Regions from separate parts of the Homo sapiens genome. Here region 1 is linked to region 2. A link means that fine-mapping ties the variant in region 2 to the expression of a gene that starts in the linked region. Tissue or cell type: fibroblasts. Region 2 holds a variant in brackets; the other region holds the start of a gene. All regions are shown on one strand. Distances are from middle to middle.

The links. PIP is the estimated chance that this variant, and not a neighbour inherited with it, causes the effect.
Region 1: SLC35F5 starts here. The variant in region 2 is fine-mapped to the expression of SLC35F5 in fibroblasts (GTEx, PIP 0.97).

What each region holds. Positions count from the first base shown.
Region 1 is chr2:113,755,383-113,757,998 of GRCh38, reverse strand. It overlaps SLC35F5 (solute carrier family 35 member F5), which reads left to right and starts at 1,357. Exons shown (of 16, transcript NM_025181.5): 1 at 1,357-1,629; 2 at 2,455-2,545. The coding sequence starts at 1,590. RefSeq lists enhancers at 582-631, 812-991 and a silencer at 1,202-1,431.
Region 2 is chr2:114,050,984-114,053,745 of GRCh38, reverse strand. No RefSeq gene overlaps it. Among named protein-coding and RNA genes, the nearest start is that of LINC02992, 72 kb to the right of the region's middle. The variant T/G (reference allele first, on the strand shown) is at 1,635.

The sequences.
Region 1 (2,616 bases), 300 kb after region 2:
GCTGGGATTACAGGCATGAGCCACCGCGACCGGCCTGGTTGGTTTTTTTTTTTACTCTGCACAATAGGTTTCTGAATGACTTATTAGAGGTGTTTGATGCTGATAGTTTGAAACTGATTCGATCAATTAAAAAATGTTCATTGGTATTGTTTTATTAGTTGCTAGAATATGCATTCAACTTCACTGAAACGAGACTTAAAAGGTAAGAGGTACACTACATCGCGACTATAGGAGTAAGAAAATTTAATTTCTTCACGCCATCTGACCAAGATGTTAAATTACTGAACCCTTTAGTCTTGTTTTTGTTTTGTAGATAGAAATCAAGATGCTGGACAAACCTTTCTCATGGAATAGTCAAAATATTTAAGGAACAAATCTATACAGTTTAATAACTGCCAACATTTGGCAGGGCTCATGCCTGTAATTCCAGCACTTCGGGAGGTCGAGGCGGGCGGATCACTTAAGACTAGGAGTACGAGACCAGCCTGGCCAACATGGCGAAACCCTGTCTCTACTAAAAAATATAAAAATTAGCCGGGCATTGGTGGCTTGCGCCTGTAGTCCCGGCTACACTGGAAGCTGAGGCTGGAGAATCGCTTGAGCCCGGGAAGCAGAGGTTGCAGTGAGCTGTGATTGTGCCACTGCACTGCAGCCTGGGTGGCAGAGAAAGACCCTGTCTCAAAACAAACGAACGAACAAAAAATTGCTGACGTCTGTGAGGTTCTTATTATGTGCCATGAATTGATCTACGTCCTTCACATATGTAAACTCATGCAATCCTAGCATACACACAAAAAACCAATGTGGCAGGTACTATCATTATCGTAGACAAGGAAACCGAGGACCAGAGAAGTTGAAGTAGCTTGGCCTAGGATGTAGGTTGTAACTCCTAGAGCTGAGATCTTGTTTATATACAAAAGGTTTCAAGAATCAAAAGTACTCTAAGCCACTTTGCGTTTCGGCTGTCATCGAGAAAGGGATATCCGAAGTTTCAGGTTCGCAGTTTGTGAAACGGAACGGCCAGCTTTCGTTCTAAGGCGGGCGGAGGTTTAGCCACTCCCTCGTCCTTTGCTCTGCCCCAGACACCCACGCTCGCTTTCCTCTTCTTCCTCCACCTCGCCCTACTTCCCTTCTTCCTATCTTCTCTCTTCTTTCGCCTCGCCGCCGCGAGCCCTCGCTCGGCGACCAGAGCCTCGCATTACTTCCCCTAGCTCCGCCAAGCCTCGCTGCATACGCGACCGCGCGCAGTCCGCCGTCGCGCCCCTATGACGTCACCCGCGCGCCACCGCTTCCGGGCTGGGGACTGGGGGCGGGGCCGCGCGGAGGGCAAGCCGGGGGCGGGGCCGGGGCCAGAGCAGATCTCCGGGCCTCCGCGGCCATAGCTGACTGTGCCGTCCCTTCCCCTCACCCGCTCCACGCCCTCCTGGGCCGAGTGGAGTTGGGTGGTGTCGGGAGCCTCTCCCTGAGGGGCACCGCGTCTTCAGGAGCTGGGCCTCCAGTGCGGCGCGATGTCAGGCGCGGTGACAGCTCTGTGAGTCCGAGGCCGCGGCCGTGGCGCTGGGCGGCTGCGGGGCCTGACCGGTCCGCTCATGGTGCCGCCACGACGCCATCGCGGGGCAGGAAGGCCAGGTAGGCAGGCAGGGAAGGGCCCCGACATCACCGGAGCCCAAACCGGGACGGAGTGCCCACCAGCAGCACCACCTCCTGCCCTCGGTGGCAGCAGGAGCGCCTTGACCGAAACCGTGAAGGTCTCTAGGGGCGGAGGGAGCGGGAGCTGACAGGGGCGCCGGAGCCCTGCGCCCACCGCTGGCAATTGAGGAAGCCGTGCGTGCGCCCTCGCCTCGGCTCCCCGGGGAGGCGTCGCTGCCTTAACTGTCTTCCCCGCTCCAAAACAGAAGGATGATTTCTTTTCCCAGCTGTTTCTTTTAAAATGACTGGATGTTTTGATAGAGGTGGGTGGAGGAGCATGGAGAATCCTTTTCTTTTACCACTTGAAGAGATTGGAAAGGTGCCTTCAAGACCCACAGCAAATCACTTACTCTCCGATAACCAAATTCCACTCCAGCAGATCAGGGACAGAAAAGACACTTTTAGAAACAGTGTCTAGACGCTGTCCCCAGGGATGGATTCCTCTGGATGGAGAGGTGAATGGAGTTCCGTATTTGTGAAACTCAGAGAAGCTATTTTCTGGTAGTTAACTGTTCTTAAATGTGCCGTATGTTGTATATTACTCCCCCTCCCTGCCCGCCCCGTATCGCGTATCTCTCTAAGTATAATCTGAAGCGTGCAGTGGATACCATGAAAGTACTGAGAAAGGTGGCAAGTATGTTTAACACATTTTGGTCCTTTTCATTGATTTGCTTTGAGTTTGAAGATGAAGAGTAAAAAACGATGTGATGAATCTTACCTTGAGTTATTCACGTTTTCATAGCATAATTTCATGGTTGTTTTTAGGGGTGCTGAGTTCTTCACCTCCTTTTAGACTGAGATCTGCCAAGTTTTCCGGCATTGCTCTTGAGGATCTCAGAAGGGCTCTTAAGACAAGGTAGATTCCACGTTTATCCTCTATGTAACTTTCACACTGAACATTAGCTAACAAAAGTCAAATGTTTCTGT
Region 2 (2,762 bases):
AGAATAAGATGTCAATCTCTAAGTATCCCAAATTAGAAGGAATGTGGACGGGCTTTCTGAGTAATTTCCTTGAATCCCTTCTTCATTGGCTTAAAATCAGTGAAAAGTATTAATGAGGGTGGAAGAAATGCACAGAACCCTCTCAGGTCTCTCTGAAGAAATCCTCTTTCCACTCTTCTTCTGTCTCTCCCCCTACAATTGCTGAAAGTGGGTGGTAGGCCAGTGAGCACAGAAGCAACTTCACAGCCTCCTTGCACATTCTGCTCAGGTGGTCTTGTCTAGCACACTGTCTTATGAGTGTGGATATTTGGCAGTAGATGGTTTGTTCTCAGCCTTTGGAATCTTCACTGAAAATCTGAGATGAGGGTAAGAATAACATTTAACAACTTGTTACTCTCCTACATGTATCATCCTTAACAAAATTGCCTTATTTTGCAGAGTGTCACTATATGACCAGCCATATTTAGACCTTGGGAAGATGAGAGTTTGGAGATGATTAAACAAATAAGAAAGAGAATATCGTTTGTATTCTTGAGGTTAAGAAAACCTAGTAGAGACTGTAGCAGAAACTTTTTTAAATTATTGATCCGCCCCAATTGTCTGATGCCCCATCTCTTCAGAAACTCACCCCCCCCCCACTTTTCAGATGGTCCTCAACAGCTACGTTTGCATGATAACGCCCCTCACTAGCCACAGCCCACTGGACCTATGCCTGACATATTCCTCAAGACAGGCCAGTTGTATTACTCTCCTGAGAATCAAGGATTGGACTGAAAATCCTATCAAAAGCTGTATTTGGAAACGTTGGCATGTTGAATAGAGAAGCAGAGAAAATCATTCTGCAGAGAAAGAGAGAGAATGGGGTAAATACAAAGACATGGACAGAGAGGGATTCTGTAAATGTTCTGCTTCCTGGTTATCTTCCAATTGACTAACTGCATCCCTGCCCTTGTGGCTTATGACACTCTCTATATCTGTACACAAATTATCTTTTTCCTTAGATTAACTAAAGTTAGTTTCTGTTTCTGCAATCCAAAATATCCTAAACAATACAGAAACAATACATAAAAGGGAGTTGAGAACACAGCAACACCATATGGGCAAATATAGTTGATTACTGAAGGCATCTCAGAGACTCATTATCTGGTGTAAGCCTCAGAAGATGAGTAGAATTGTTATGAGATGAAATTGAAAATATTCCAGTTAGAGAAAATAGTATAAGCAATAGCAAGGGGGTAGAGAACATTCAACATTTAGCTGAGAGGCCTAATGTGTCAAGAGAAGTCACCAGAAAGAAAATTAGATAAATAGACAAAGGAAAGGTTTTAGAGAATCATTAAAACCATTCAAAAGAAGTAAAGAAATTCTTAAATTTCAGCTGAGGGTAACAGGATAGAATCTGTGCTATAGAGGCTAATTATTAAATGAGTACTTAGGACAAAATCAAAGAGTAAGGGGACTGGAGACAGGGACAGCAGATAGAAAGCAACTGCAATAACCTGAGAAAGGAGTAATGAGGGATCCATCTAGGACAGTGGTAATTGAAATAGGAGGGGAAAAGGCCAGTTTGACATTTTGGTGCTGAAATCTGAGTAGGGAGTGAGTGATAGTCCCAGGGCAGAAATAATCTCACA[T/G]GTAAATGGTGCTAAACGTGGCCATGTCTGAGACGATTTAATGAGCTGCTTTCCTGGTACGCTAAGCTGCTGGGCAAGTTGGATGCATGCTGTAGCAGACAGGTGCTGTTTCCCAACTAGCAGCATCTTTCCACTTCTTTGGGTAGCATCACTGCAGTTTATTTTGAGGAACTGGATAAGGAATCTCTCCTAAACTTACAAGTTCCATCTCACCTCAGAACTTTAGACGTGACACAAATATCAGTATCTCTGTAATGTCTCTGTCATGGAAAGAGACAAGTGAAGCAGTATCAGACTCTGTAGCTCTCAACCCTAGAAGTAGAGAGTCAGGTTTATAAAAACCCCACCCTGAACTCACCTGTTGTGTGATTCCCACCCCAAGTCAGACATCCTTGGTGAGGAAGGTGTTGTGTGGGCATCAAACAACTGTCATACAATTAATCTTCCAAAGCCCCCTCTTGCTACACTTTGCACCATAGAGTCTATAATGTTAGATTACCCAGGATTGAATTTTGACTCTCCCGTTTACCAACTGTGTAACCTTGGCCAAGATAATTAACTTCATTTTGACTCATCTTCTTCATCCGTAAAATGGGAATGACAGTAACACCCACCAGATAGGGATTATGAAGATTAACCTAAGACTCACAAGGCGCTTAGGACACTGTCCGGAGCATGTGGAAAGCTCAAATAATGTCGCTAATAGTATCAGAAGTACTCGAACATTTTGGCTGGTTATTGTCCAAAAAAGCAGCTCAGCTTCTCATTGCACAAGGGCTCAGATAGTTGCATTTGGCACATTATATCCAATTTCCCATAAACAAGCTTGCCCATAAAGTAATTTCATTCATAAGTGCACTTAAGAGTGCACTTCATGGAAAACTCATCCTAGTGGGCCTATTCCAACGACGCAGCTAAATTTAAAGTCAGAAGTTTCACGGAGATTATTCTAAGATCCTTCTTTGGTGAGTGAAGCGTTTGGCCGGTAATGTGTGCCCTCAATGTTTTCATAATAAATAATACAGACCTTTGAGCCTAAACCATATACATTTGCCAATGATTTTTACATCTGCAGTATTTTTTCTTTTAACAGAAATGTTTCTGTCTCTGGTTTGACTAATACATGGC